4 separate regions of the Homo sapiens genome follow, and regions 1, 3 and 4 are each linked to region 2. Evidence: fine-mapped expression QTL. A gene starts in region 2. Each other region holds a variant in brackets. All regions are shown on one strand. Distances are from middle to middle.

Region 1 (5,172 bases), 43 kb after region 2:
GGTGCATGAGACAAAAAGAAAACATGCCACAGAGCTAAGAGCTGATAATGGGTGCAAGGAAGTGATGAAAATGATGGACCATGATCTCCCCACTGGGTGAAGGGCAGCGGGAAGACAAGGTCCCCTGCAGGGGACAGGGAGGAAGCTGAAGGGTCCCTGGGTGAGCACACCAATGATTGACAGTGGAGGCATCACAAACAGTGATTTGGAGGGAAAGGCAGTGATGGACTCATCATAGGATGGGTGAAGACCAGATTTCAGAGGAGCTCAGGTGTTGGTCACTGTCAAGCCTGGGTGTGGATCTGAAATGGATGGCTAAGGTCAAGTGGAAGAAAAGTTACTGAGCTGAGAAGGTCAAGGAAGCAAAGTCCAGCCTGTTGGATGCATGACCTTGACATTCTTGGTCAATGTCACTGGCCAACAGACCTGCAGAAACTCGGAGTGAACACACACCTCAGGAGACGGTGACACCAGAATCAAGGACATTGGTGACCTCCTTACAAGAGATCTCCTCAAGTCACTTGGCAAACAAATCTGATGGGGAATCAGCATGACCACTGCAGAGACAGAAGAGATCTAAGATTTATAGTATTCAGTAATTATCTAGTAAGAAATGGTCATCTGTCATAAAGACAAATAATATTCTTTTTTTTTTTTTTTTTTTTTTTTTTTTTAAGATACAGGGTCTTACTCTGTTCCCCAGGCTGGAGTGTGGAGTGCAGTGGTGTGATCATAGCTCACTGCAGTCTCAAACTCCTGGGCTCAAGCAATCCTCCTGCCTCAGCCTCCCAAGCAGCTGAGACCCCAGGTGTATGCCACCATGCCTGGCTAAATTTTTTAAATTTTTTGTAGAGATGAGGTTTTGCTATGTTGCCCAGACTGACCTTGAACTCCTGGCCTCAAGCGATCCTCCTGCCTTGACCTCCCAAATTGCTGGGATTACAGGTGAAATAAGGCCCTTTTATTTACCAGTATCAATGACTTGAGCCTGATTTTCCCAGTCCATTGCTGGAAGTGCAGTAGGGACTGAAACCTCTAGTCCTCAATTCCTTGACTGCAATTGTGTGAGCGGAGCAGTGAAGTTATGTTTTGAGAATCAGAGGTCCTAACTCTCTGCTGGCTCAAGCAAGGGCTTCACTGACCCACAGGTCAAGCTTTCTCAGGCTAGGAGCCCTCAGGACCGAAAAATGGACTCCACTTCAATGCCTCGAAGTTCCCTGGCCACCTGCTTCCATTCCTTTCTGATCCCGAATGAGTACATGTCTACAATGGCCATGTCTTGAGAGCAGGAGGGTCAGTGAAGCCAGACCACCAGCTGTTGCTTCACAGATATGGCCTGGGAGAGCCCAAACGTCAGAGTAAGACAGCCATAGACTACTTTACCTCCTAGAAATGGGAGCCTGAGGCCCAGAGTGGCAATGTAACCTTTTCTAAATCCACTGGTAGCAAAGCAAGGCTTGTAACGAGGCCTCCCCATCCCCAGCTCCAAAGTCGAGTGTCCTCTCAGTCCCTCCAATGCCCCCTGCAGCCCAGAAAACTGCAAAGTTTCTCACCAAACAAAGGCAGATGTAAAGTGAAAATGCCCTAAAATGCCAGTGACACATAACCCAGTGTGCAAGAAACTGACCACTCAAGAGTGAGTTTCTGCCTCGGTTCCACAACTTTTGTCCAAGTTGCTTACAGTACCAAATTTATTTTAATATAATACTATTGGCCACAAACTTCTACATGATCGAATTTAGCACAGTTAATATTTAACATGTGGGCACCTGGCGCCTCCCAGCTTTCTGATGAATAAAGTATGTGATCTATTACTCCATATTAACCCAACTCAAAGAAATTAGTAGTGGTGGTGGTGGTGACGGGAGTAATCATAGTAGTAATCATAGGACCAAAGTAGTATTTATTGAATGCCTACTGTATACCAGGCATGAAAATAAGTGCTTTCAAATACAGCATCTCATTTAAATCATAAGATTATAAATTATCACCTAAACCATATTACTTTGCAATATTTTAGTCCATTCTGCTCAATGGATATTTTTTGAAAATCAAGTAGCACAGTACAATAATTCCCAAATCAATTCTGATTTTTCCTCAGAAATTTGGTAGAGAAAGTATCCCCCCACCAAGTGTAGACCCAGTAAGTTAACTTATGCCCCAGAGCAAACTATCCTGTCAGAGTAATAAATCTCCATTTTAAAAATGTGTGTTTTAATGGAAATATTGACATGACCTTAAGAACACATAGCACCACCAAATAGTACAGCTGGGTGCAGAGAGGGAGAGGGGCCTGATAAACTTTTGTCTGTATCACGCCTGGGCTTTCCAAGGTCTGGAACTATCTTTGCAAAAGATAGTTCCAACAAGAACTTTAAACATAATTTAGATGTTCTCTTAAATAAAATTTCATCATCACTTTCATGGCTGTTGCATTGTATTGGTTGATCCCACACACTTTATAGAACAGAACTCCAAAAACTTAACTCCTTTGAAGGTTCTAGCTCTAAGCAG[A/C]TATTCTGTAGAACAGATATTCTGTAGAATAGATTCCTCCCCACCTCCCATTCCCCAGCCCCCCACCTCCAAAATTCCAGCTGAGCATATTTTTCTTCAAAGGGCAAAGTTGACCTAGGATTATGTGTGTTCTCTGTACAAAGGATATGTTTTCAGCAAGCAGGACCGCATTCCTACGAAGCAAAAATGTTCCCTGTAAGCTGATTGCTCCAGTCCTTTCGGACCTGTCTCAATAAAGGCTCTGTTCTGTTCACTTGCTGTTGTGTGGCCCATGTTCTCAGAGGTGGCTTAGGACAGGTGTTTGTCTACTGAGAGCCCGAGAGGGACTCTTGAGGGCTAAGAGGCCTCTCTTAGATAGCTGTTGGCCTTCTTGACACACCGACATTTGCAAAGCAACCCCTCAAAGAAGATCCGTTTGAACAAAACCCAACAGAGCTCCCTTGCATGAGGGTATCCCTCTCTACAGTGCTAATTCCCATCTCTCACTCTGATGATGCCGCAAAATTCTATTGTTGCAGGGGGAAAGGGAGGAGTAGAAAAGTGAGAGAGAGAAATCGAGAACAAAATGAAAGCAGCCAATATTTCTAAGTACCTCTTGATGGTCTCTAATGTCTAAAAGCCACCAAACTAGGTCCAAGTACACCAAGCCCCTGGCAACGCCAGCTTCAAGATCAGCAGGAAAATCCAAAAGGAACCCCAATTCACATCTATGAACATGCCACGATCTTTCCAGAGAGAGCCATGTGGATATTGGGTCCAGCAAATCTCTCCCTCCTATAGGGTGGAATCATCACATCAGACCTTCATTTCTGAAACACACAAGTGGTACAAATAACTATTTGCATTACAAAATGATTCCAATGGAACTTGAGTGATTAGTTAGGGCTACGTGGACAGCCAGAACAATGCATCACCATTTATTGAATACGCAATTATTAAGAGCCAAGTCTTCCCCTCTGGCCATGATGGAGAACCATGGAGTTCTGAGTGAAGATCAAGGGCAGCAGAGAGCCCCAAGAGCAGGTTACACAGAGGCCCATGAGTTCCTCTTCTGCCTTGTCAGGGGCTGCAGAGCTTTTGCTGTGATAGGGACATGAGCTCGAATGAGAATCAAAGTTGCCCTTGGGTAGCTGTGGCCAAGTGTGGCCTCCACCGAAGTCTCGGTTTATTTCTCAAGGAGCTCCTGGAGGCCCAAGTCTTTCTCTGCTCACTTCTTCAGCCATCATGGTCACTGGAGCTGGGCAATGCCTCCCCACCTCCCCTGGGGAGTTCTGCAGAGCTGAACACACACAAGGCACCTTCATGTTCACATGTTCATTGATAAACCAATATGAGAGTCATGATCATCATCAGAGTTGTGAATCGAGGGTTTCTGCCCTCTGCCAAGCATTTGATGTGAATTATTTCATTTCATCCACACCCACCTTACAAAGCAGGTTCCACCCTATCTGAGAGAAGAGGAAACGGGCACAGAGTCTGACCTGTCCCCACTAGTAATGGTGGCTCCAGGAGCCCAGGCTGATCCCGCCTGCTCATTCTACTGACTGGGTAATATAACCCCGTTCTCCAACCTTAAAAGTCATCATCGTTCCTAACTCCACTCATCAGAGGACAAAGACATTGCCCAAAGGATAACAATTCCACAGCTCAGGCCGCAGAGGTGAGAGGGATGAACACCAGGGTCTTAGGAGATCCAAGAGTGTGATCTGAGAAGAACTGAAAAAGAGCTTCCTTCACTTGGAAGGACTGAGATGTGAACACAGAAACCCAAACCCAAGCTAAATGCATGAAAGACACCTCCCAAATGAAGGGTGCATGGCTGCTTCATGCAGGTTTCCAGAACTTCCAAACAAAGCCTGCTGAAGGGTTCGCAGGAACAATTACGGCATGCAAATGTCATGTGACTTTTGTCACTGATCTTTCAACATGCAAAGCTGGGTTCATGTGTCTCCAATTCAAAATCCAAAATTGAAGTCTTATGTGGAGATAATTATAAGTGAAAATCAAACACAGGCCTAGAAAACACCCCACTTTCCTCATAAAATAACTGTTCACAGAGAAGAGCCTGGATTCTCAGAGGAAGTCCGGGATGGGATGGACCTCTCTGGATGGGGCAGGGTTCAGTCAGACCTCAGTCATTCAAAGCTGGTGTAAATTCTGGGGCCCTGAGCCCGAGGTCTGAACCCCAAGCCCGAGGAAATATGCACTCCTCCTGGATTAATTTCAACAATGCTGTGTCCTTTAACAAAAGGCTGTAAGCAAACAGGAGATTAAATTGCATAAGGGGGAAAAAAGGCTTTTTATTTTTATTAATGAATTAACTTATTTATTTTTAGAGGCAGGGTTTTTCTCTGTTGCCCAGACTGGAGTGCAGTGGTGCAATCAAGGCTCACTGCAGCCTCCAGTTATTGCTGGGCTGAAGCAACAACACCCAAATCAATAAGACCGCGCCTGAGTAGCTGGGACTATAGGTGTGTGCCATTATACCTGGTTACTTTTTAATTTTTTGTAGAGATGGTGTCTCCCTATGTTGCCCAGACTGGTCTCAAACTCCTGGGCTCAAGTGATCCTCCCGCCTCAGCCTCCCAAAACACTGGGATTACAGGCATGGGCTACTGCGCCCAACTAGAAAACAAAAAAAAAAAAAAAAAAAAAAAA
Region 2 (5,172 bases):
AAAAATTACCCCCTTTGTCTTTGCGCAAAAGAGGCAATCCGGGCACCTTCTGGTGGGCACCGAGGCGGTGCCAAGGCGCCTTTCTTCAGGGCGGTTTCTATTCCTTTTCTAGCCTCACCAGATATATTTTTAACATTAAAAAAAAACACTATATTTAATTGGTTATGGATCTCTGTTCTCTTAGCACTACTGGATATCACAGAAAAACACATTAGTACAGAGCAATTAGTGCAATGGCAGTAAACAACTAAGGCACTATTAAGCTGTGGGTGATTAAATAGTATTACTTTATATTTTTTACGGTGCTAGACTAAAAGATGGAGATTTAAGATATATATATTTCCATTAATATTAATATAAAATATAAATAACAGGTGTCTTCCACTTCTTCTTAAGGTGCAATTTATACCCAGCACTTCAACCTATAGAGAACTACTTTTCTTATTGAAAAAAAAACTCTTTCTTTATACACTCCAGGGCAATATTTCTTATCTTCATGCACCCGGATATTTAAGCAGAAATATTATTTAATTGGAGTTACGGACTCAGGCGAAATAATGCCCATACCTATATCACCATTAAAAAATAATAATAATAAAGCTTCCATCCCATTGAAATACGCTCTATCGTTTCTATCTTTGCAAAGAGCGAATCGGGCATTATGTGGTGAATTGACTGCAGGCCCGGAAAACAGGCGGGCGGCGGGTGGGCTGCGGCCCTGGGGCTGGGGCCGGGCCGCGTGCACCTTGCTGAGGCCCACCTTGGCCCCGGCTCCCACTGCAGCTCAGGCCGCTCCTCCTCCGTGTGTGTAGATCATCCTGGAATTCTGGCACATCTTTCCTCGGCATCTGATTAAGTTAACAATGTGCTGCTATTTGCATGCAGATTTGCCGGGGCTTTCTCTCCAGCTGCTCCCAGAGACTTGGTCTTTCTCTGCGTTGTGATAGCACAGCAGTCCCTAAATGCAATCTTTGTCAGACCCAGGTGTGCTCTCATTGAGGACGCCTTCGTTCCAAGCAATTTTTCTTTCTGTAGCATTTATAAGGCTCTATTATAGTATAGCCACATCTGGAGGAAAATTCTCCTATTAATTATATACTTTTACCACTAGGAAGACACATTCTAAAAGATACCAACATTTTTGTTGTTGTTGTTCTTATTTCTTTGACAGGCTGCATTTTATTTTATTTTGTTTTGTTTTTCCAGGCATTTCAATATTTAAAGAGCCATTAACCAAGGGGTGGGGGGTGTGAATTTCTAGGAAAAAAAAAAGAACAACAGAACTAAAATCTCAGTGTCAGCCCTGCCTTACCTCACAGGGACAAGTCAGGGGAAAGGTGCCAACTGAGAACTCTCAGAAGACCTCCAGGCTGGACAAGGGATTCAGGATGAGGGCCTGGCCAGTGGGGAAGAGTTCCGTTCTACTGGAGTTTAAAAAAAGGTCGGGGGGAAGAAAAGCACAAGTGCTATTAACTTTTAACCTAGTCTTCTCCCAGGTGGACATTCAAGCATGTCACCAAATCGCCAGACAATTTGATTTCTCTAACGTCAAAAAGCAGAACCCAATTGGATCAGCATGGTGATCCCGATGCGGAGTTTTCTTTGTGTGGTATGGTAATTTTTCAATTAGGTTGGAGACAGATTAAAAGCAAAATTTGGAGCTCAGAATTCATGCTCATCTTTCAGAAAGAGACAAGAATCTTTGCCCAGGGAGTCTGAAAGTTACTTTAGAAGCAGGTGGGTTGTTTTGTTTGGTTGGTTGGTGTTTTTGCTTTGTTTTCAAATCTTTTGGTACAGTCAGATTAGATGGGGGGGGCGGGTGATGGAGAGAATTAATGTAGGAATTATAGGAAAAGTTTTAACCATCGGATGGTCCCTTTCTAAATTATAATAAATTTAAAGGGCTATAATTTTTTATTCAAAAATTATTTTGCAAAAGGGTGTGTACTTCGTGAACAAGAATCCATGCATGAGTATGTGCGTGTCTGCATGTGGGTGGGTGCATGTGTGGGTGTTCTATGCTGGGGAGACTGCACGCACACACACTTGCACACACTCACACACTCACACACAAAGAAAGCTGAATTACCTTGAGAACAGGGAAAATGGAAATGGAACCATTTTCACTTTTCAAGACAAACTTCATCAGGTAAAAATCCAAGCAAGGTTTTGGTCACTTGAGTCCAGATCCTATGATGACAACGTGGAAACTCTCTTCTCCAGACTCACCTCCCCTGTTCCAAAGCTGGCCTCAGCAAAATCCCAGGGCCGTGTCCCGGCAGTACCAGGGGCGGCTCCCAGCAGGCCACGTGTGAGCAGCAAAATCACACAAGAGAGGCCTTTCTGAGTCCTGCCTCTGAAGGCTGGAGTCACTGCTCCCAGCTACTAACTGCCTCTGCTCACTGGTGCTAACCCCTTTCCCTCAAAATGACCAATTGTTTTCACTCTCTCTGTACAGAGGCCAGAAAGGCCCTGCAATTAGGGCCCATCTTTGGACCATGCCTCAGCCTCAGTTTTGTCAGCTCTGAAATGGGAAGAGCCAATCCCATCCTAAGTACATGCATGAAAGACTGTCAACCCAGTTCTAAATAGAAATGATAAATAAGGGTAAATTTTACTCTGATTCTTTTTTCTTAGGTCTCATTTCCTCCAAGCCTTGGTGCTGAAATTAACTGCCCTTCTTTTACCTTACGAAAACAAGCAGCGGATTCTAGTTTCATGACACTTAAGGAAGAATCTATGCAAAAAGGTGGCAGATATTAAATGCATAGATTCTTCAATGTATATATATTCTCTCTTTATATATATACACACACACATATATATGCATATATATATATATATTCTCTATATATGCATTTAAACATATAATGCAAAAAGAAATAATTTATTTTCTAATTTGACTCTTTTGGGGCCGCTGCCTTTTCCATCTCCTGCTGGCTGGCAATGCCCCCTCCTTTCCCCTACAGATATCCAGATACCCTCCTGCAAAAATACAGCAGGGAGGCAGATGCAGTGATACTAGATTACATCACTGGATAGCATGTGGCATTGAGGGGAGAGAAAAAAAAAACAAAAAAAAAAAAACAAGAAAAGACAAATGACATTTTGCTGCTATGGTGTGCTATTTTAGTGGTGATGGCTTGACTTTTGGCCCAAACGCATATGCCAATGGCAAGGCTAACTCCAGGGACTCACAAAAAAGAATGTGTGTTCACAGCTGTACTGTACACCAATACAGATTACATGTTTTCAGTGTTGCGGCCACAACAGAATGCTAATTAACATACTGGAGTGATGAGAGCGGCTGCAAAGGCCTTATTGTTCCATTATTTCATGAAGCCCAGCTGCCTTTGTTTATGTCACTTATCCTCTCGTGCCACAGGTTTTTACTCCAAAAATACTATCCCAATACAGCGTTAATATTTAAAAAACAAAGAGGTGGCAGATTGTCATTTTTGTGTCAGTCTCAAACTGCAGAACTGTTAAGCTGTTCTGGTTCGGTATTTAGAAATAATTTAACAGCCATATTCAGACACTGCCTGCATTCTAACATAATGGCTGAATACTTGAACCAAGCAAATGCATAACTATCCTGACATCACTTATGAGATTTAGATTGGTCAGTTAATGGAAGTCTTTACCACAATCAATACCATAACAGCTTCTTGAAATGAACGTGATTTTTTACACGGAGTGCTGCAAACAATAACTACAGAAACATACTACCTTTGTACCCAGCACAAAGAAGCTAAAATGCAAAATTAAGAAGCAATTACGTTTTTGCAAACTAATATTACAGTTGATTATTAAAAACAAACACTTCCAAAAATACGTACTTATCATTTAATAATTGGAGGGCATTAATATCCCCCGTACCTGATTAATCATTTTTTTACACTTTTTAATAGCTGTTTCACCTACTGGCTACATTATCAGCTTGCTGTTAAGTATTGATATTGATGATTGATGTAATAATGATTAAATAAAAAGCCATATTTAGAGCTTGATTTTTATAACATTCTTTGTCATAATCTTCATTCAAGAGAACACTGTCTGCTGTTTAAATTAGTTTTTTTCCCCTCTGTTTTGCCTGGATTGTGCATAAAAGTGACATTCTATAAAATACAGGTTTCCTCAAATAGTGTTCCGCCAGCAATCCATACATTCTACAGTAATTTGCAATCATGGTCAGGGGAGGTTGTTGGCTCAAGTTCAAAATGTTTATGGCGCATTGGTTCCCCAAAGAACAAAAACACCCTGGGGTTTTAGTTCAAATTTCCCTAAATGCACCTTTATTGACATCAGGTACAATAGTTGGGGAAATACGTAATACCCCAGCACAGACGCCATTCAACCAGAGTCATAAATTAAGTTAGAAAAGGTCTCCCCTAAAAAGTATAGCACTCCACTAATCAAAGCCACGCTGTCGCCATTGCTACAGAACACAGAAATCTTCCCAACAGCCAATTGAGTGAACAAGCCATAGTTGCTTTTTAACGAGTTTAACTGGTAATCTCAGATAAATGGAGAACTGTTTGAAGTGTCTGCCTTCTCTAAGGCAGTAATGAGAGGATTTACAGCATTCTGCATCCCAAACTGCGTATAACCAAGAGAATGCCACAGGTGTGTCACCATCCACGTTAGAGTGCTTTCTCAGCGATGGCCATCCCCCCACTGTGGACACAACATATATTTTTTTTAATTGGATCCAGGAGCTAGCTAAATTATCCAACTGCTCTGTGCTTAAACCCCCAGCTAGCTTATGTACCAATAATAATAAACTTTCCATAATAACAGCCCAGCCTATTACTGTTTTTTTTTCTCTTAATCTAAAAGTGGAAACACTTTATTCTGATTGCAGCCACTGAAGAAACTCCTGAGTTGGTTTCCTTCTAAAAAAAAATTGCTCAAGAATTACAGAACAGACCCAGGTTAACAATATTCAATTATGCACACATGTATTTTCAGAGGAGAACCTGCTTATCTTATGGTACAGGGAGAAAATAATGTCATAATTCATCCCTTTGCAATTTGTGGAAGAATTTTGTCTTTTCCTTTACAATTTTTATTTGCCAGGTCAAAGCAACAGCCAGTCAAAAACCACACCCCGGGACAGTGACAGCAACATCTAGACTGCACAATCGCAGACGGGTCGGACTCAATTGACAC
Region 3 (5,172 bases), 31 kb before region 2:
GCGTGGTGGCTCACGCCTGTAATCCCACCACTTTGGGAGGCCAAGGTGGGTGGATCTCCTGAGGTCAGGAGTTTAAGACCAGCTTGGACAACATGGTAAATCCCGTCTCTACGAAAAATACAAAAATTATCTGGGTGTGTTGGCGGGTGCCTGTAATCCCAGCTACTCGGGAGGCTGAGGCAGGAGAATCGCTTGAACCCAGGAGGTGGAGGTTGCAGTGAGTGGAGATTGTGCCAGTGCACTCCAACCTGGGATACAGAGTGAGACTCTATCTCAAAAAAAAAAAAAAATGTTAACAGTGCCTCTGCATCAAGGGCCTCCACATTCTTCAGTAAGTAATCCAATTTCCAGTAGGCAGGATGCAAAGGTGGAAAACGATTCGGGTGTGGCGACTGATCACACCGGTTCTGAAAATCCACCTTCTAGACTACAACACTGCGCCCATAAACAGTATCAAGAGGCAAGGGAGAAGTGCAGTCTTAAATGGTTTGGTACCCATGGAGAAGCTTTCCCTGGAAGACTCTGGTCTGATGGCTCATCAGACCCATCAAGCCTGAAGCCAGGAGCTAGGAGATGGTTTCCTAAGGTTCTGTTGAATCTCAGAACCTATGGAGTTCAGGCACAGGGAGACCCCAAGTTCAGGAAGTAGCAGTGCGGTGTTATTATATATACATAGGTTTTGTCTGCAGTTCCTGGCTCATAACTCCCATGGTCCCTGTCAGAGTCTTTTGTTGTAATGTTGGCAGTATTAGGCCTCAGGAAACAGAATATTTCTGATCTTTTTCTGACCTCCTTTCACCTGCCCCAAGGCAGGACTCTAATCTTCCCCCATCTTTCTGACTTGGGGTCTTAAGACCCTCCCCAAAGAGGGTCTCACCCTATATTCTGAAGGATATGTATGACATCATGAAGCTTCCCTAAAAACCCAAGAGGACTGGGTTCTGGGAGCTTCGGGATAGCTGAATGCCTTGAGGTTCCCGGACAGTGGTGCCCAGGGAAGGCGTGGAAGCTCCCCACCATGCCCCATACATTCCCCTACGCCTCTCTTCACCCACATCCTTTGTAATATTGTTGATAATAAACTGGTAAACATAAGTAAATGTTTCCATGAGCTGCTCCGGCAAATTAATAGGACCCAAAGAGGGGGTCATGGGAACCCCAACGTGAAGCCTGTTGGTCAGAAGTTCGTGAGGCCTGGACTTGCAACTGGTGCCTGGGGCAGGACCGTCTTGGGGACTGAGCTCGCAACCTGTGGGATCTCTGGGTAGATGGTGGCAGAATTGAATTGGGGACACCCAGCTGGTGTCCACTGCTGGGTGTGTTGAGGAGCCCCCCCGCCTCCGGACATTTGGTCACAGAAGTCTTCTTCTGTGTTGATGACTGTGGTTGTAGTATAAGAGAAGAGGAAAATCATGGTTGGAGAGTTTTCTAGAAACAAACAGCAATGGTAACTAACGTGGTACTTCCTGGGCACTCAGTCCTGTTCTAAGTGCCTTCACATAATTCTCAAACTCTATCAGTGAGTTTTACTACTATCATATTCGTTTTATGGTTGAGGAAACTGAGGCACAGAGAGGTTAAATAACTTGCCTAAAGTTTCACATCTGATCACTAGATTGCTGGGACTGAACCCCAGACTGCCTGTCTCCACATGCCATGCGCCTCACTGCTAAGCCATCACTACCTCAAGTGGCCTGCAGTTGAGGATGCTGGAGTTCCAGGGATGCTGGGGTGCCAGAAAACAGTGTCCCCCTCTGGCCTGCCCCAAATACAGAATCTACACCAAGGCTGTCTCCACATTTCCTTGGGGAGTCTGGGCTCTGCGCCCAGACTAGAAGCCTCTTGAAGGCAGGATGGCCCCCTTTGTGCCCAACCCAGGTCTGAGCACAAGGTAGGCAGGCCCTGCGTGGGCAACGCTGGCCTTACGCTACAGTTCTTCTACCTACCATCTTCCCTTGCAAGACTAGCAATAAGAAACGTGGGATGGAACAAATAGTGCACCGTGATGAGGAGATTCTAAATGAACAGCAGAAAAAAAAAAAAAAAAAAAAGAGGAAAGGAAAGGAAAGAAAAAAATGTAGAGGGGAATGCTGAAGGGCTTAAATTGCCTGAATCCACCCTTCAATTCCCATGAGTTCTTCGGCCAAGTGGAGATTACATTTACGGTCATCACCAGATGTTCACTGAGAGCCTACTATGTGACCATCCCATCCCTGAAGGCAACAGCAGCCTCCCATCAAAAGCCTGGTGCAGACACCG[T/C]TGTCAAGAGCACAGGAAGAACGAGGGGGACAGCATGCCCAGGGACAAAGAGCAGCTGGACCTTGCACTTGGAGACTCTGGCAATAAAACTGCAGCCGAGTGCAGCAGCAGACAGGGAGGCTGTGGAAGACAGCAAGTGGGTCTTCTTTCTAGAGCTGCAAGTTTGCAGGAGGTATGCATTTCACCAACTTCAATAAAGCGGATAGCAGCTCACTTTAGTTTCCATGCACTAGCCCTGGACCAGCCAAAGAGTTGGATTTCAGCAGAAAGAAGAGAGAAGCCCCTGTAGACTTCAAATTCTCCCTCCTGGACCTGATTGGAGATAGTCCTTCTTACCCAAATGCCACAACGATGACAGTTTCCTCTGCTTAAGAAATAGGAAAAATAGAGAAACACATTCTTGCGCAGCCTTTGACCTTTGGCTCTCACTTTCCTCCTTTCAGCATTTTTTCAGGGAAAGAGTTTAGATTTTCAAAGGCCTGCCTTGTCTGCGTTGTGCATTTTCCTGAAATGATGTAAAGAACAACTTATAAAAAATATTGTAATGTGGGAGAATGCAGACCCTCTGACTGAGCTCAGCGGTTTGTCTACAGTCACTCCGACGTCTGAAATGGCCAGATCACATATGCTTTGGAGGCTGGGACTAACAATATGTTATTGATGCCATTTTAAGCAATGCCAGGCAGCATCTCAAAGTGCAGCTCGTCAGCAGCGGTGTTCTCCTCCGCAAAGCATCCCTCCCCATCCCTTCTGTATGTGAAAGCCCAGAGTTGCAGGCATTCCTACCAGGGGGCCAGGGCACGGCAACACCAAATGTAAACATTTATTCCTTGACTCCAGGGAGAAGTCTGTCATGTCAGGCTTTGGGTTTGGGCCTCACAATAAAGCCTTTGTCTCTGCAAATGGCCAGGGTGGGGTGGGGGTAACATTCCCCTCCGACCCAGTCTAAACAGGAGAGCAGTTTAGTTTAAATCAAATTTTTGAAAATTATATATATATATATATATATATATATTTTTTAATTTTAAAAAATGTTTAAAAAGCAAGCAACACACATGTTTTTACAGTAAGTCACTGGGCTTATGAAGTAATATGACTCGAGATGCTCTGGAGGCGGCAGTTTGAGAATTGCATCTTTAAACCCACGTCGGCCGCGGTTTGCAAGCTTTTAAAACACAGAAGCCTGTCGAGCCGTACAGGGTTCCCGGTGAAAAAAGGCAAATGGAAGGTGGCTGGGAGAGGTAGAACAGGTTGTTTCAAATGATCAGAGTCTCCAGCACTTTTAGGAGGAAAGAAATGAATGCTGCTTCCTCCTAAAAGCGTAAAATGGAATATTCTTCCAGCCATTCTGAGACTGCCTTAGAAGTATTATGCTGTTACAGATTTCAAAAGGTTAGCTTCAATGAACCTGACATCAGTATAACCCAAAATAACCCATTCAAGAGAAAAGTAAGAAATAATTGCTGTTTTCTCTTTTTTTTTCCCCTCCACTATATTGCTATAATGATTTTGCATAACAGATTGAACAAAGTGCTGTTGTGACAGGTGGTAGAATTCAGCTAGTAAGCACCGAGACAGGGTTCAATTTAGTTTGTGAATCCTTTAATTGTTGTGCAGCTAATTAAAGAAGGTTCTTTACACTCGCAAGTGTTTACCGTTGCTAGTATGCATACATGAAAAATTAAATTGTGCCTTCAAGGGCTGAGAACTATAGAAAAATCATAGCTGAGGCTGCAACATGCTTACCAGCTCAAAATAGCTGCTTTTCACAATTGGAATTTGTAAAACTTTTTGCTAAGCAAATATAGAGCTAATTAGAAGTGTTCGTTGGACCAATTAACATTTAAATAAATAAGCCATATTGCACATTTCACAGTCTTTATTTAATGATGCTTCTAACTCTTTGGAAAGATTCTCTTAAGTACAAATAAGTTGTCACAAAAATGAAAGATAAAAATAACCCCATAACAGTATATGCTATTTTTTTCCTTTTCCCTTGAAGTCCTTTACTAAAACTCTGTACCTGTTGTTGAAGAAGAAGAAAACACACCTACCACCCACAAATCTAGCTTTTCCTTTCATCTTCTCCAGTTACCTTTCCCCCTCTTTGAATAGAAATAGAAAAACATATTTTATTACTATTTAAATGGTTATGATAATTCTGTTTACTTACGGTTTTTACCCCATTATAGAAAAAATCTGTTTCAGAAAATCCCACTTTAATCTGAGAACATGTGTAAGCAAGGAAAAGAAATGAAAAGAGACCCAAAACAGTAGTGTCTGGGGAATGTGGTAGAGAAAGCAGTGGGTAAAGTCCTTCACACGTGCTCCTGTGCAGAGCAAACCCCACTGGGGTGGTGAGCCCAGTTCCAGTGCTCACATCCATTCTTGGTGGAGGCCAGAGGTACTGGGACATGGGGAGTCTAACCCGGATCTTGAAGTCCTTCTTTCTTATTCTCAAATATCAAGATATGTAGACCAGACTGAAGCAGGAGGATAGCTGGAGCCCAGGAATTCCAGGCTACAGTGAGCTCCAACCTAGGTGACAGAGTGAGACTCCATCTCGTAAAAGAAAAAAAATAGATAGATCAATGGAACAGAATGGACAACTCAGAAGTAGCCCCCCACACAGGTAAGGCCAATTGATTTTTGACAAGGATGCAAAAGCAATTCCATGAAGGAAGGAGAGTTTTTTGCAGCAAATGGAGCTAGAACAACTGGATATCTATAAACAAACAACAACAACAACAAAAAGAGAACCTTGACCTAAATCTCATATCTTACACAAAACATGGATTACAAATGTAAATATAAAGCATAAAACTATGAAACTTTTAGAAGATAATATAGGAAAAAAATCATAGGAACCTAGGTCCTGGGCAAATGGTTCTTAAATATGATACCGGAAGTAAA
Region 4 (5,172 bases), 160 kb after region 2:
CATCACCAGACCCTAGGCCTAGCCCAATCCCTGGCACCATGCAGATCATTAGGAAATGTTGATGGAACTAATCAAGAAACTAATACTGAGGCAGGAGGATCTCTTGAGGCCAGGAATTTGAGACCAGTCTGGGCATCATAGCTTGACCCTGTCTCTAAAAAAAATAAAAATAATAATAATTATCTGGGTCTGGTGGCACTCGCCTGTAGTCCCAGCTTCTCAGGAGGCTGAGGTAGGAGGATTGCTTGAGCCCACGAGTTCAAGGCTGCAGTGAGCTGTGATCTCACCACTGCTCTACAGCCTGGATGACGCAGTAAGATATCTGCCTCTAAAAAAAGAAAAAAAAGAAATTAATGAATCATATCTAACACTTAAATAATTCATACTATGTGCCAGGCACTTATTTTTGTTTGTTGTTTTTTTGTGGGATTTTTTTGTTTGTTTGTTCTGTTTTTTTATTTTTTGAGACGGAGCGTCACTCTGTCTCCCAGGCTGGAGTGCAATGTGCAGTCTCGGTTCACTGCAACCGGCTAGGCACTGTTTTAAGCACTTTACCTACACTGACCACTGAATGAATGAATGAATGAATGAATGAATGAATGAATGAATGCACATATGAACAGCATTGCTTAAAATGTGTTGCCACCACTAGAAATTAGTTGCAACACTTTAAAATTAATGGTTCTTTTCTCTGATATAAAGTAGTCCTTGATGCACATTGAAGAATAATTAGAAAACACAGGAATGTACAAAGATGATTATATCTTTCTTAATCTCACCCTGATAGCCTTTTGTATCTTTCCTTCCGAGCATTTTTCTGTGCATATCAATTTTTTGCAAACTTTGAATCATTTTTATAAACAATTTTGTGTCCTGCTTTTGTTCTCTAACCTTGTAGCACAAGGTATCTCCCCATGTCATTAAATATTCTTTGAAAACATGATTTTATAGCTACATAATGTTCCATCAAATGGATGCAACATAATTTATTTAAACAACCTCTTATTTTGGAGCATCTAAATTGTTTCTATTTTGTTGTTGTTGTTGTTGTTGTTCTCTTAGAAGTATTGGAGAGAGCATTTTCATGGTTAAAGCTTTGTTTGCGTCTCTGCTTGTTTTCTTAGAATCCACTGACAGAGGTGAAGTTGGATCGGTGCATATGAAGGTTTTGGGGCCCCTCCTAGATGCTGCCAACTTTCTTTCCAAAAAGGCTGCCCCAACTTGTTCTTCCCAATTTGTTTCTCTTCCTGTGTCTCCTCCAGCCTTTTGCCCATTTATGCACAGGAGGCTTTATGGCTTACCTTACAGACTCATAAGAGGATGATAAACCTTAGGCAGTCACTATTGCTCCAAATTAGTTGGACTTTTAATTCTGATGGTGGTGCCATTTTCAACAGGTTCTTGTTGTCCCCGGCTCACCCTTCAGCTCTAGGGAACCCCAGGGATGTCTCTCAGTGCCCACTGAACCTTGCTGGCTTCAAATAAAACAATGTATCTCTTTGCTTTAGCTCCAGATGGGCTGTGTATCCAAGGGAGGTATGTGTCCAGCCAATATTCCTGATATAGTCATTCTAGGGCTCCAACTCCCCTGCCTGCTGCCCACTCAGAAGCTCTGCTTCTAGATCTCCCCAGACCCCTCACCCCTTGCTAACTCCTCGAGTTACTTTTGCCAATGGTGGTGATTTTTCTATTGCTCTAAAAGAGAAGGGGAGGAGAATACCATAAAGCAGCAGAGCACAGGTTCTGAGGCCAGACCACCTGGGTTCAAATCCCAGCTCCAAAATTTTAGAGCTGTGTGACCTTAGGCAAGTTACATAACCTCTCTGTGCCTTAACCTCCACATAAGAAAAAAGAGCGTGTTTAGAGAACTCAGTGGATTAGCCCTTAGCATGGCACCTGGTACATAATAGGCCTTTACTATTCTTATTCATGATGTGTACATGTTTTATGTGGATTTTCTAAATTAAATAAGAATGACAGTCGTTTTCATAATGTCCCATGTTATTTAGCTTTGCACTTCAGGGCTGTAGAGATGTTTGTGTGGTGTTCTGTTTCCAGCATACCTGGCAAGCCCTGGAGGCTCCGCTCCACACCTGGCTAACGGGAATCTCCATCAGCCTCTGTCCCGGCCCCCTAGTGAGCAGTTCTTTCTGCCTATGACATTCATTCAACTCATTCAACGTAAATACAGAAGTCCATCACAGCATCCGGAGCACTTCCTGTTAGTAAATCGTTTAGACTGTCAGATCTGGTTTTGCAGGTTCAGAATGGCCTCACTGCAAACTCCCAAACCAGTGGCTTACCCCTGTCACCTAGCTTTTGTCACAAATGGCTTTGGCTTTCCCCATCAGCCTGAGTCAGGAACCCACAGCATGGGTGATGCGCTTTCTCTTTCACAATAGGCATTTGCAGGT[G/C]ACGCACTTTACAAAAGGGAACTTGATTTGGGGACTGCATTGCATCTGGGCTCCCTCTTGCCCCTTTGCCTGTCTTCTGTCATCTCTGTGGAATGCCTATTGGGCTATGGACAGATATTTTATGAATTACTTATTCATCTTTTCACAAGTACAGCAGGGAAGTTGGCCTTCCTGATCCTGACTGGTGGAAACACAGTTGCTAATGTAAGAAAAAGTCCAGCTTTCTAGCAGCAGCAATCAGCTGAATCACTAGAGTAGTTAGAAGTTAACCCAACATTAGGAGGCCGAGGCAGGCAGATCACTTGAGGTCAGGAGTTAGGGACCAGTCTGGCCAACATGGTGAAAATCCATGTCTACTAAAAATACAAAAATTAGCAAGGCATGGTGGCACATAACTGTAATCCTAGCTACTTGGGAGGCTGAGGCACGAGAATAGCTTGAAGCAGGAGTCAGAGATTGCAGTGAGCCGAGATCATGCCACTGCACTTCAGCCTGGGCAACAGAGCAAGACTCTGTCTCAAAAAACAAAAGAAGTTAACCCCCAAAATTAGGTTATGGCTACATCCCCCCTGAATGTACCCCCACAACACTGCCTTTACAAGCAACCATCTGCTGCCATGGCTGTGATGCCCGGACTGTGAATGAAACCCACCCAGTCACCCCAGGAAGCTAGATGCAATGTTTTCTTGTTGTTGTTTTGATTTTGGGTTTTTTGGTTTGTTTTTTGTTTGTTGGTTTGTTTTTTGTTTGTTGGTTTGTTTTTTGAGACTGAGTCTCACTCTATCGCCCAGGCTGGAGTGCAGTGGCACAATCTCGGCTCACTGCAACCTCCGCCTCCCGGGTTCAAGCGATTCTCCTGCCTCAGCCTCCCAAGTAGCTGGGATTATAGGCACCCACCACCACGCCTAGCTAATTTTTGTATTTTTAGTACAGACAGGGTTTCACCATGTTTGCCAGGCTGGTCTCGAACTCCCGACCTCAAGTGATCCTCCTGCCTTGGCCTCCCAAAGTGCTGGGATTACAGGCATGAGCCACCACGCCCGGCCCAGATACAATGTTCTGAGCTGAGGGCTTGCACGATACCCTCAGATGTTTCTGTTCTAACCTACCTGGGCTTTAGGCTGAGTACATAAGCAAGTGAGGGTTTTCTAACGATAGAAGATATGTCTCTGCCACTTGGAAGTCCCAGGCTTAGTGAGAAGCATCTACCATAGAGGACAGGAGGAACACATTTCCCACTGTGCCCCGGGAGGAAGTGTCGCCTCAGCAGCACACAGTGGCTACAGAGCTGCACACCTGGATAAACCCAGGATAAGACAACGTTTGCCAGACGAATTCTGTCGCTGGCTCTCCCACCCCGTCTAAGAATGTGTCCTGTTACATTACGAAAAGCAACACATCAGAACTGAGATTCTGGAAGCCGAGTCCCAGAGGAAAACATTTAAAAGATTACCTTTAAGAATCAATCTCGGCCGGGCGCGGTGGCTCACGCCTGTAATCCCAGCACTTTGGGAGGCTGAGGTGGGCGGATCACGAGGTCAGGAGATCGAGACCATCCTGGCTAACATGGTGAAACCCCGTCTCTACTAAAAATACAAAAAATTAGCCGGGCGTGGTGGCGGGCGCCTGTAGTCCCAGCTACTCGGGAGGCTGAGGCAGGAGAATGGTGTGAACCCGGGAGGCGGAGCTTGCAGTGAGCGGAGATCGCGCCACTGCACTCCAGCCTGGGCCACAGAGCGAGACTCCGTCTCAAAAAAAAAAAAAAAAAAGAATCAATCTCACACCTGGGAGACCGGAAATAAGTCACAATCCAGGAGTTTAAAGACGAAATGAACAACTCGAGTCCTTGACCTTGTGAATGTAGTCACCAGCCAAGAGAGGGCTTTCCTGGGGGAGAAAGGGGGAGGGCAGGCTGCCTGCACGTGGAGGGTTTGGGTGCGAAGTATCATCTAAGACATGGATGTTGTGAAAGAGAGAAGGGTGGATTTGCATTGGTCAGGGAGAGTGAAGGCTGCACGCCAGTGTGGTGCACATCCAGCTCTGGGCTGCACCCCGTGGGGACAAGAAACACTCCATGAGTCCTCGTGCTAAAGTCTGCTATGCACGGCCTCAGCCTGGCCATTAGCGTTAAAGCAGGAGCTCTCCACGGGCAGGGACGGGACTTTTCCTCTCGGTGTCCTCAGCAGTGAGCACAGAGCTGCCACCTCACAGGGACTCAGCGTGTGGCTCTTGAGTGAGTGAGTGAACGAATGCATACCACATTCCACAAAACACCAGTGTCCAGTGAAAGACGACGATTTTTAGAATTTGGGAAAACCTACAGTCATCAAAATTATTTGGTTAATTAGACCTAGCAGATGGGGAAAGCAAAAAAAAGCAGGGTACAAAACTTTATTGACAACACAATGCCTGTTTTATGCATGCATCTATAAATATGCTCGTTCTGAAGACGTGCATGTGACCCACGACATTCCCTGTGAATTAACCAAAGGACAATCACTATTAACACGTGGGTGAGTTCCCTTGCAGCCTCTTTTCTCTAACTGCATCATGCATACTTATTTATGCATGTAAATTTTACATGCAAAAAAATACAAAAACAAAGGTATGGGAAGAAATTCACCCCCATATTAATGGTGTTTCTGGATGGTGGGATTAATCGTGATTTAACTTTTGTTCTTGATAGATTTCAGAGTCTTCTAAATTTTATACAATGGGCATATTAACAAACTTTGTTGTTGTTGTTTTCAGAGACAGA

What was found. PIP is the estimated chance that this variant, and not a neighbour inherited with it, causes the effect. A credible set is the group of variants that fine-mapping cannot tell apart.
Region 1: its variant is the best candidate, but not a certain one, in a credible set for the expression of ZNF536 in thyroid (GTEx, PIP 0.87).
Region 3: its variant is the best candidate, but not a certain one, in a credible set for the expression of ZNF536 in lung (TOPMed, PIP 0.85).
Region 4: its variant is the best candidate, but not a certain one, in a credible set for the expression of ZNF536 in fibroblasts (GTEx, PIP 0.77).

What each region holds. Positions count from the first base shown.
Region 1 is chr19:30,326,795-30,331,966 of GRCh38, reverse strand. It overlaps a transcript of ZNF536 not described here. Among named protein-coding and RNA genes, the nearest start is that of ZNF536, 43 kb to the left of the region's middle. The variant A/C (reference allele first, on the strand shown) is at 2,515.
Region 2 is chr19:30,369,474-30,374,645 of GRCh38, reverse strand. It overlaps ZNF536 (zinc finger protein 536), which reads right to left and starts at 2,262. Exons shown (of 5, transcript NM_014717.3): 1 at 2,090-2,262. RefSeq lists an enhancer at 717-1,218.
Region 3 is chr19:30,400,899-30,406,070 of GRCh38, reverse strand. The region is part of intron 1 of ZNF536 (zinc finger protein 536); the gene reads right to left. Among named protein-coding and RNA genes, the nearest start is that of ZNF536, 31 kb to the right of the region's middle. The variant T/C (reference allele first, on the strand shown) is at 2,260.
Region 4 is chr19:30,212,083-30,217,254 of GRCh38, reverse strand. No RefSeq gene overlaps it. Among named protein-coding and RNA genes, the nearest start is that of ZNF536, 160 kb to the left of the region's middle. The variant G/C (reference allele first, on the strand shown) is at 2,415.